Homo sapiens: one gene and its partners. The protein of the gene in region 3 purifies or fractionates together with the protein of the main gene of each other region. This does not show direct contact. Each region holds a gene or a part of one and is shown on either strand. Other genes may lie near its edges. The genes, in order: PPP3CA, SOAT1 and SMPD3.

The links.
Region 1: the proteins of SMPD3 (region 3) and PPP3CA purify together in Homo sapiens (affinity purification with mass spectrometry; 2 studies listed by BioGRID and IntAct, with this or other methods). This does not show direct contact.
Region 2: the proteins of SMPD3 (region 3) and SOAT1 purify together in Homo sapiens (affinity purification with mass spectrometry; one large-scale study listed by BioGRID and IntAct). This does not show direct contact.

What each region holds. Positions count from the first base shown.
Region 1 is NC_000004.12:101,092,467-101,096,121, forward strand, and holds part of PPP3CA (protein phosphatase 3 catalytic subunit alpha), read right to left. Parts: intron 1,450-3,655; coding exon 1,310-1,449; intron 1-1,309. UniProt on the Homo sapiens protein: Calcium-dependent, calmodulin-stimulated protein phosphatase which plays an essential role in the transduction of intracellular Ca(2+)-mediated signals. Many of the substrates contain a PxIxIT motif and/or a LxVP motif.
Region 2 is NC_000001.11:179,342,229-179,345,883, reverse strand, and holds part of SOAT1 (sterol O-acyltransferase 1), read right to left. Parts: intron 3,023-3,655; coding exon 2,941-3,022; intron 2,295-2,940; coding exon 2,249-2,294; intron 938-2,248; coding exon 808-937; intron 1-807.
Region 3 is NC_000016.10:68,441,893-68,445,547, forward strand, and holds part of SMPD3 (sphingomyelin phosphodiesterase 3), read right to left. Parts: intron 1-3,655. UniProt on the Homo sapiens protein: Catalyzes the hydrolysis of sphingomyelin to form ceramide and phosphocholine. Ceramide mediates numerous cellular functions, such as apoptosis and growth arrest, and is capable of regulating these 2 cellular events independently.

The DNA of each region.
Region 1 (3,655 bases), on a different chromosome or scaffold from region 3:
GGAGTACATGTGCAGAATGTGCAGGTTTGTTACATAGGTATACATGTGCCCTGGCGGTTTGTTGCACCCATCAACCCGTCATCTACATTAGATATTTATACTAATAATATCCTTCCCCTAGCCCCCCACCCCCTGACAGGCCCTGGTGTGTGATGTTCCCCTTCCCTGTGCCCATATGTTCTCTTTGTTCAACTCCCACTTATGAGTGAGAACATGAGGTGTTTGGTTTTCTGTTCTTGTGATACTTTGTTGCATTGGGGCAAAAATAATAGTTCTTATGGATTCCAGCTTCATCCATGTCCCTGCAAAGAACATGAACACATCCTTTTTTATGGCTGCATAGTATTCCATGGTGTATATGTACCACATTTTCTTTCTCCAGTCTATCATTGATGAGCATTTGGGTTGGTTCCAAGTCTTTGCTATTGTAAATAGTGCTGCAATAAACATGCATATACATGTGTCTTTATAGTAGAATGATATATAATCCTTTGGGTATATACCCAGTAATGGGATTGCTGGGTCAAATGGTATTTCTGGTTCTAGATCCTTGAGCAATCGCCACACTGTCTTCCACAATGGTTGAACTAATTTACACTCCCACCAACAGCGTAAAAGCGTTCCTATTTCTCCACATCCTCTCCAGCATCCATTTCCTGACTTTTTAATGATCGCCATTCTAACTGGCATGAGATGGTATCTTATTGTGGTTTTGATTTGCATTTCTCTAATGACCAGTGATGATGAGCATTTTTTCATTGTTTTTTGGCCACATAAATGTCTTCTTTTGAGAAAGAAACTACCACCCTGATTAGTCAGTAACCATCAACATCGAGGCAAGATCCTCCACCAGCAAAAAGATTATGACTAGCTGAAGGCTCAGATGATCATGAGCATTGTTTAGCAATGAAGTATTTTCTGATTAAGGTATGTACATTTGTTTTTTTTTTTTTAGATACAATGCTATTGTACACTTAATAGACTACAGTATAGTGTAAACATAACTTCTATATGCACTGGGAAACCAAAAAAATAATGACTTGCTTTATTGCAATATTTGCTTTATTGTGGTGGTCTAGAATCAAACCCTTAACATCCCCAAGGTACACCTGTATATGTATACATATCTATTTCACATTTATTTACTCACTTATTCATTTATTTATATTTTCATTTTATAAATGCTAGTGAGCCTTTCATTTATATTAAAGAAGTAATACAAACATTATAAATAAATCAAACACATGGACTGATAAATCCTAGCATTATGATGCAAACGTGTTCCAGAGAGCAAGTTCTCTATTCTTACCTGTAGAAGTATGAACACCCCCTGACTGTGTTGTGAGTGAAATGTTCCTGAGTCTTCTCATTTCCAAAATCTTCCAGGGGGTCTGACCACAGGATATCACACATAGGTCCATATGCAGGTGGTTCTTTGAATCGGTCTAACTAAGAAAAATAGAAGACAGAGAGCAAAATACTAATCTTTGGAAACTTAGAATTCTGACAATACAAGAAACAAGCACTGTGCAGAACCCATCCTCTTCTCCCCAGCTACAGCTCAGGGTGAAATGTCCTCTACCTCTCTCTCTCTTCCTGTCCTTCTTCCTACTCGTTTTCCTATCCTTCATCTCTCTCCAATTTTCTTTCCAGCTTCCTTCTGATGAGATCATTTAGTATCTATCTTCATCTAACCCTTTACCTTCCTCTTGCCTCTATTATCTCTAGATTTCGCAGTTTCTCATTTCTCCTATTCTACATTTTATCCTTCTCTCCTTACTTACTTTATCTATCCAAATGTTTTTTTCATGACCAGTTATTATGACTCTACCCCTGTTTCATTTATTGAGAATTACTTTCTTTGGGAAAATTCCTATTACTGCCTCTATTAAACTGTGATTTAGAAGTTTGGATGGAAAACAACTCCTAGTTTTCATGCTTATGTTATTTTTTTATATTTAAGAACATGATTTTGAGAAAAGATGGCTTTTACTTTAAAAGTAGCCACTTGCTATATGATATTTTGGATACTATTTCATTATGGGCTATCTAGGTTTCTAATGATAAACTACAAGCCTCCTGTAGTTGATCTTAGTGGGTACAAATATGAGTAATGATAAGCAGTAAAATAAACTCAACTTTAGCGGGTCATTCTTCAGTTCACAGTTCTAAGCTTTATAATTTTACCTGAAGCCTTCATATGAAATCAATTTTCCAGCTATAAATGTTTAGTGAAGTCACATTTCAATTTTAAAAGGTGCATTTAGAAGGCATATTAGAAATATCATCACTGGAAATAACATATCACGATCAATTTTAAACACTTTAGTTTATCCTGATTTAACTGCAATTAAAGGATCTTTGGTGAATCAGCAGATATTATAAAGGCTCTTGAATAAAAGCATGCAATAGCTTTGAAAATCTATTAAGAATTGATATTCTTCATATTGATATTTTTAAAAATCCAATGAAGACAAGTGAACATATTTTGCTTACAACTAATCAAATTGTCTATTTTTTTTTTCTGGGACATACAAGATGTAAGTAATGGTTTTGTTGCACACTACTTTTTATTAGTATCTATAGAGAATGAGGCAATATTTTATGTTTTCAATACCCAATGAAAAACTTCAATAAAACAAGACTACATTTCAACCATTATGTTAGCCACAAAATATTCATTGCAAACTTAAACTTGTTTAAGAGATTTAAATAATTTATGCTCTTGGAACAATACATTCAAGAAAAATAATACTTGTCCCTAAAAATACAGAACTTCTTTCTGAAAAACAATAACTTATTAAGGGTAGGACAGTAGAGGAGGGGAAAGTTTCTGATTAATATGAATCCCCAACTAAAGGTCTGCAAAGCTACCAGAATATAACATTTATTCTGGAAAAAGTATACAGTGCATTCTAAAAGTTAATATAATTGACAGTAAAAATAAACAAATACAAAAAAACTTGATATATGGCAAGATAAAAACTTAAAAATCATTTTCTGGCCATGTGCAGAGCTTAATGATATGTATGAAAATTGAATATAATATCTAAAATATCCTGGGAAGTAAGTCCTAGGGATATTAGGTGATATTTTAAAAAATCTACTTAATTTACGATGTGAAGTTTATTTACTTAAAAAAAATCCATCAGATTACAGAATGAGCTAGTTATATTCATGCAGAAAGAAACATTTCTGTTTTTGAGACGGAGTCTCCCTGTGTCACTCAGGCTGGAGTGCAGTGGCACGATCTCGGCTCACAGCAACCTCCACCTCCCAGGTTCAAGAAATTCTCCTGCCTCAGACTCCTGAGTAGCTGGGATTACAGGCGCGCGCCACCATGCCTGGCTAATTTTTGTATTTTCAGTAGAGATGGGGTTTCAACATGTTGGTCAAGCCGGTCTCGAACTCCTGACCTCATGATCCACTTGCCTCGGCCTCCCAAAGTGCTGGGATTACAGGCGTGAGGCACCATGCTTGGCCCAGAAAGAAACAATTTTATACTGAACCAGCATCACATCTCTACTGTACTTTAAATATAGAGCAAAGACCAATGCTCTATGCTCTATAGAAGTGTGAAATAGTGTCTTGCAAAAATGGACACAAAGACACAGAGCAGGAAACAAGGTTTATTTATTGTGCTTTCGCTTGAATT
Region 2 (3,655 bases), on a different chromosome or scaffold from region 3:
AAAGACAGGAGGAAAATAAGAAATAGTGGCAAAAGGCCAAGCATGGTGGCTCAAGCCTGTAACCCCAGCACTTTGAGAGGCTGAGACAGGAGGATAACTTGAGCCCAGGAGTTTGAGAATGGCCTGGGCAACATAGGGAGACCCCGTCTCTCCAAAAAATAAAAACTTAGCCAGGCATGGTGGCATGCACCTGTAGTCCCAGCTACTGAGGCGAGAGGATCACTCGAGCCCCAGAGGTCGAGGCTAGTAAGCCATGATGACACCACTGCATTCAGACTGGGTGACAAAGAGAGACCCGATTTCAAAAAAAAAAAAGGCAAGAAAACAGTGACAAGAGAGATTTAAAAATGTGGTCAGCAGCACCCAATGCTTCATGGAGGTCAACTTGGATAAGGGGTAAAGTACATCTTAATCCATCCACTGGATTAGAATATGGATTACTAGTAATTTCTACAAGTAATTTCTACAAGTTACTAGTAATTTCAACAAGGGGCATTTAAGTGGCTTGGTGGAATCAGGAGCAAGATTACAATGAACTTAATAGCGAACAGGAAGACACAGCATGAATGTGGACTGTCCACTGTCAGAGAAAGGCACAACTTGAGTGAAAGCCATAAGATGAAAGACTGACCTGAGACTGGATGAAGGATACTTCATTTATAAAGTAGATGCAAAAGAGGTCAAGATGGGCATAGATGTATAGAAGTTTAGATGAAAAAGTAGGCAAAGCAAAGGTGCTCATAGGCAATAGCTTTCTATTTACCTCGTGAATTTATGCATGACCAAATTAACAAGTACCCATGTTACCTGGCAAGATGGAGTTAAATACACATAGGACCAGAACACGAGCGCTGAAGGGCTCCTGTTTGATATTCCGAAACAAGGGGGCACAAAGCCTTTCAAAGATGTAGTACACATAGAAAAAGCAACCAAAGACCTGGAACATAACAGAGACAGAATTATAATAACGATGGCTTAATAAGATGGAAGGCGATTTTTTTCTCTCCAAAAGAAAGTACAGATGTGACCCTTACAGTAATGTTCGCATATGTATTCCATTTAACACTAGTATAGAAGACTGCTATAATCCTTCAGGGAGATTACTCAAGCCTAGTTTCTACCATCACTTTTCCTAACCCTTTACCAAATGATATTTTTAGAAGAGCTTACTCTTGGAACCTGTTTTCCTGCTGCTTAAAACCCGTAACATGGCCGGGCACAGTGGCTCACGCTTGTAATCCCAGCACTTTGGGAGGCTGAGGCGGGTGGATGACTTGAGGTCAGAGTTCGAGACCAGCCTGGCCAACATGGTGAAACCCCATCTGTACTAAAAATACAAAAATTAGCCAGGCGCAGTGGTGGGCACCTGTAATCCCAGCTACTCAGGAGGCTGATGCAGGAGAATCGTTTGAACACAGGAGGTAGAGGTTGCAGTGAGCCAAGACTGCATCACTGCACTCCAGCATCGGTAACAGAGCAGGACTCCTTCTCAAAAAAAAAAAAAAAAAAAAAAAAAAAAAAAAAAAAAAACCCCTTAATGAAAGAACTTACTTCATAAATGGGCATTTGATTGAGACACTAATTTAAAATGGGATCTTCCAGGATTAATGATTCTGATGGAGGTGGGAGGAGGAATGGGTAAGAGTCAGACTATACCCACATACATATATACCTCCCCCAAAAACAGGAAGGAAGGGGGAAATTAATGCTTACTGAAATAACCAATTAGAATTACTTTATAAATAATACATTCTTTTTTTTTTTAGATGGAGTCTTGCTCTGTCGCCCAGGCTGGAGTGCAGAGGAGTGATCTCAGCTCACTGTAACCTCCATATCCCAGGTTCAAGCAATTCTCCTGCCTCAGCCTCCTGAGTAGCTGAGATTACAGGTACGTGCCTCCACGCCAGGCTAATTTTTGTATTTTTAGTAGAGATGGGGTTTCACCATGTTGGCCAGGCTGGTCTTGAACTCCTGACCTCGCGATCTGCCCACCTAGGCCTCCCAAAGTGCTGGGATTACAGGCGCAAGCCACTGCGCCCAGCCTAATATATTCTTTTATTAAAGAAAATTACTTTTGATGTTGGCAAAACAAACACCATTTACCGTACTGGAAATAGTTTAAAAGACTGCATAATGTCAACAGAAAGCATTCTTAGCTCCCAATTAGATTTAACTAGATTATATTATTATCATAAATATGAATCCCCATCCCCTAATCAACATACCTTAGGCAGTTACAAAAACTTACCTGTGCAAACTTCATAGCGACATAACCCCATCTTACAGTGGGATTCCTGAAAAAGAAAGAAACAAAAATAAGGTTTCTAAATAAAGTAATTGAACTTGAATAAAGACCCTCACAATTAATGTTTTTTGGTCAGGCGCGGTGGCTCACACCTGTAATCCAAGCACTTTGGAAGGCAGTGACCAGGAGTTCGAGACCAGCCTGGCCAATATGGTGAAACCCCGTCTCTAATAAAAATACAAAAAAACCAACCGGGCGTGGTGGCACACACCTGTAATGCCAGCTACTTGGGATGCTGAGGCAGGAGAATCACTTGAACCCAGGAGGCAGAGGTTGCAGGGAGCCGACATAGCACCACTGCACTCCTGGGTGACAGAGCAAGACTCCCATCTCAGAAAAAACTAAAATTAATTAATTAATAAAAAATAAATTAAAAATAATAAAAATAAATAAAAATTAATTAATTCAGAACATCATTTATGACCATATGAAATACTTTATAATTCTGTCAAGAATTACTATAATCAAATTAGACTTCCCTACTCACCATTTGAGGCTTCTCAGGTCAGACAGAAAATGAAAACTCATTCTATATTTTCTATGTCCCTACATGAACTGGCCCCTGTTTACCTATCCCACCTCACTCATGCCACACTTTTGGTGTTTACCACATTTCTGGTTCACAGTACCATTACCTGGGATAGCTGTCACGGTAGATAAGGGTAGGAGCAAATAAGAAGTACAAATACTGGTTGACTGTAGGTATTGGAACAGTGCCTAGAAAAGGAAAACTATAGTTAGAGCAAAGGCTCTTTGATTTTTCACAGCAAAAATACAGGGGGGAATATAAGGAAGCACAGAACAGGGAAGAATAAAATGACTTATCAGCTCATGTTCTTTTTTCCTGATCTCCGGAATGACTTCTTATTCTTGCACGAATTGAATATTACCAATCTCTTTAAACCAAGTTATTCCTGTGACTGAGATAACTTCTAGAGTGTGAAGCAACAATTTGCAAAGAATAGGCAGGCACAGGTGTAATGAGGCTATTAACATTCCATAAAAATAATGCAAAGTTGCAAAAGATAATCAATTTTTTAAAATTGTAGGTTCAAGGGCAAAGCCGGAATAGTCAGGAAACAATGAAGTGGTCCTCAAAATCAATATGGATAATATATATTTGAAATAAAACACAATCTCTACATTATATAATGTGACATCCCAGAAAACAACAAAGGGTGAAATATCCAGCCAATAATCCTTTAAACTAATGAAATTACACAAAGAAAAGAAAAGAAAAAGAGAGAGAGAGAGAAAGAGAAAGAGAAAAAGAGAGAGGGAGGGAGGGAAGGAAAGAAGGAAAGAAGGGAAGGGAAGGGAAGGGAATGGGGTGGGGGGAGAGGAGGGGAG
Region 3 (3,655 bases):
GTAGTTGGGACTACAGGCATTCACCACCATGCCTAGCTAATGTTTTTATTTTTTATAGAGACGGGGTCTCACTATGTTACCCAGGCTAGTCTTGAACTCTTGGCCTCAAGCAAGCCTCCTGCCTCAGCCTCCCAAAGTGTTGGGATTATAGGCATGAGCAACCGTGCCTGGGCTATTTCAACTTAAAATTTGGGTTTTGCATTGGTATTGGATCAAAGAAGCCTATGTTAACGGAAATGTATCCTTTGGGTAATTAAATGAACAGAGCAACAGTTTAGGACAGTGGAAAGAACATGCTTTAGGCATTAAAAAATCTGGGTTCTAAGCCCCATCTTAGAACCACTAACCAGGGCTGTGGCCAGAGCAGCCCTCAACTTCCCTCGCTGTCTTTCCTCATGTTAAAAAGACATGATGGTTTATGATTATTAATATCCTTTCCATTTCTAAAGCTCTTTCTGCTTACAGCACACATTATTTCAGGGTTTCTGTGTCTGTTTCCTTGTTCCGTTCAAGATTTCTATAAGAAAGGACTTATCCCACATTGTGGTTGTGTTCCCCGTGCCCAGCGCTGTGGCTGACACATTTTTGTAGGCACAAGAAATGTCTGTTGAATGAATGGAAATCCAGTCCTCCTTTGAGGGACTCCTGGGCCTCCCAGTTCTTGCCAGAATGATCACAACAGCCTTAGCAATTAATTGCACTTTCTCATATTGGCCTAAAATCTTAACAATCTAAGCTTTCTAAAGGGTTATAGCCAGGATTAGAAACCATTTCCTGATCCTGTGTGCAAAGGAGGTGGTACTCAGCCCTAGGTGTGGCTGCCTAGAGACCCCCACAAATGGCCTCCTTCTTATTACACGCTGTTCTGATGCTGAGGAGAGTTAATTAATGACTCTAAATAAGAAAACAATCAAATCTGTCTGCAGTCATATGAGTCAGAGCAGACCCAGATGGGGTGCCGGGTCCTTGGCTTCCAAGCGCCCTCGGGAAAAGCAGTAGCAGCCTTTGCTCCTTTCATCAGAGCTCTGCGAAGCCCCAGCTTGGAAGGGGAAGGAATCACTCAAAATGGAATGGAGACTCAGCTTGATATGAAGAATTTTTCTTAAAAGTCTAACCCCTTATCTGAGTGTTGTACAGACTGAGGCCCAGGGAGAGGAGAAAAAACATAAGTTCATTCCTTTCTACCCTCTTTAGACATCCAAATCGAATGGGGAGTTCTCAGAAACCGGCCCCTGTGTGTGTTGCAAGATTGGAGCAGTTGGAACTGCCACTTTAGGAGGACAAGACTTGTGGTCTGAAATTCACCAAACCCCAAACCTGCCCACCTTCTGGAGTCTTGCAGCCACATATGGAGGTAGAGCTTTGGTTGGGTGGCATAAGGACAGGAATGTGATGCTTTCCTGAGATTGGCTGAGGCCCACACAGTGAAAATTTTATTTAGGTGTTAGAGGCTTTGCTATGAAAATCTGAGAGTGCAAATAGGTGGAAGGAATCTCTTAACAATATCTGAGTGTCTTCAGCTTTGGAATAGGCTGCTAGGAAATAAAGATAAGCTCTATTTCTTTGGCTGTATGTGTACTCTTTGTCAAATAACAGCTTCCTCATGTTTTTTTTCCTTCCTTTCTTAAAAACGAAAAACAATGACAACACTTTGTTGCCATCTACGCTTGGCTTCCTGTGAAAATTTTCCACAGTGGAAAGAAACCCCTGGGCTACTGGTCATGAAGGTCATTATACTACCCTTTCCCCATTCTTTGGTAACCAAGTTCAGTTAACAAAGCTGGATAAGATATAAAGTAGGTGGCACTATCCTTGCTGAACTTGGAAAGACTGATTTGTGTCTAAATCCTAGTGGGTCCGCAATCCTATTCCTCTGGCATTTGATTATAAACTTACATAGAATAATCCAATAGTTCAGTTTTATTTCTGTAATAGCAATAGGGAAAAAACAGTGGTAAGGAGGAACTTCCAGAGTTTGAGATCCAGGATGGAACCTAAATTCTTCCCCTTCTGTGTAACCTTGGGAAAGCCCTCAAAGCTTGGTTTCCTCACCTTGAAAGTGGGAATTATGCCACCACCTACCTCACAGGACTGTGAGGATTAAATACATTCTTACATGTGAAGAGCCTGAGTCAGAAAATGTTTCCTCTTATTAGCTCATAATTCTTTAAACAGGGATTGCTGATGAGTTTGTTCGAAGTAATGCAGTAATATCCACCACAGCTCTGTTTCCTCCTATTCCATTCTGTAATCAGCTTTGGGGAAATCCTCTTGGAGGCCATGGCCCTCAGCTCTTGCTTCTGGTCCACACCCAGAAGTCCTCCCTTCCCACCAGGTGGGTGAGGCCAGCACTCCAGAACCTTGGACAGCTCTCCTCCACAGTGATCCAGCTGGCTGCCCCAGGGAGCAGGAGGGTCTTGGGAAATTTTCCGAGAAAAGCTGCATTAGTGCAGTGATTTAGGAATACCAGGGCTGCAGTCTCATTTCCAGCATGCATGCTGCCACTTGCATGCGTGTTCAGATTCTTCAACATGACCAGCCCTTCTGGAAATTTCTAAGGAGCCTCTCAGAACTGCTCACAAGATTTACCAAATCTTAGGGCCTTTTCCTTCTTTTCTATGAACTCCAAGAATTTTTTTTGAGCCCAAAAAGAACAGAAACACCACCCACATCTTCCTGAATCTGCTGATATTTAATTTGTTTGGCTTCAGTACAAGGATTAAACATTCTTGATTAACTTCAAGTGAAAGTAATAATGTATGAGCATGAGGAAATGTTTTACAAGACAAAGATACAGGTATAAATTAAAAGAAACATAAAATAACGTTATTGCCTGTAGGTGATGTTAAGCACCATTCTAATCAGGATAAGCAGGTGGTTCAATTTATGAGGCAATTTAGCTTTTCACTCTCCAATGCAGAATACAACACACCATATGCAGTCACCTTCCAAACAGGCAAGGAAGAGATTAAGTCCTATTTTTACTTTATGATACTGAGTCACATAGTTCAATGCAAATCACATGGATGCCAAAGTAAGAACAATACCAGGTATTAAAATACCTTCTTTCCTTTGCAGAGCTGCAGAGCTCTTAGGATTTTGTGACTGCAAGAAATTCCTTCAGAGTAACTCCAGGAGAAGAGACACATGTCACCAGATGGGTATTTAGGACTGAGCATGTCTTATCTCTCTCCCCCACTTCTGTCATTAGGCCTGGAAAGCCGTATTTGCAGCTTTTTGCATTTGGTAATAGCCTCCAGAAGCCTTCATTTTCTGGGCTACATTGTTTTTGAGGAAAAGAGGGCTTGCCTTTGAAAAATGTTATTGACTAATTTAATAATGACAGAAAGAAGAGGATAAATGTGGAACAGGGAAAGAGGAGAAAAGAGTAGTAGAGGTAGAGGTAGAGACAGGAGATGCCTAAATCTCTTTGGCCTTGATAAGTGTTTTCCATGCATTGTCCTTATAAATGGGTTTGATGCCCACCTTCCACTGGTCAGAAACTTGAACAAAGACCTTCAAGCCCTCTTTAAACATTTCCATAGAGGTGAAGACAGCAGCAATTCCATGGCTTGAACTAGCTTGAAAGAACTTCAGACAAGAACATCAACTCAACACTCTGAAGGTAGGAGGGAGCCCCCCAATAGAAAGATTT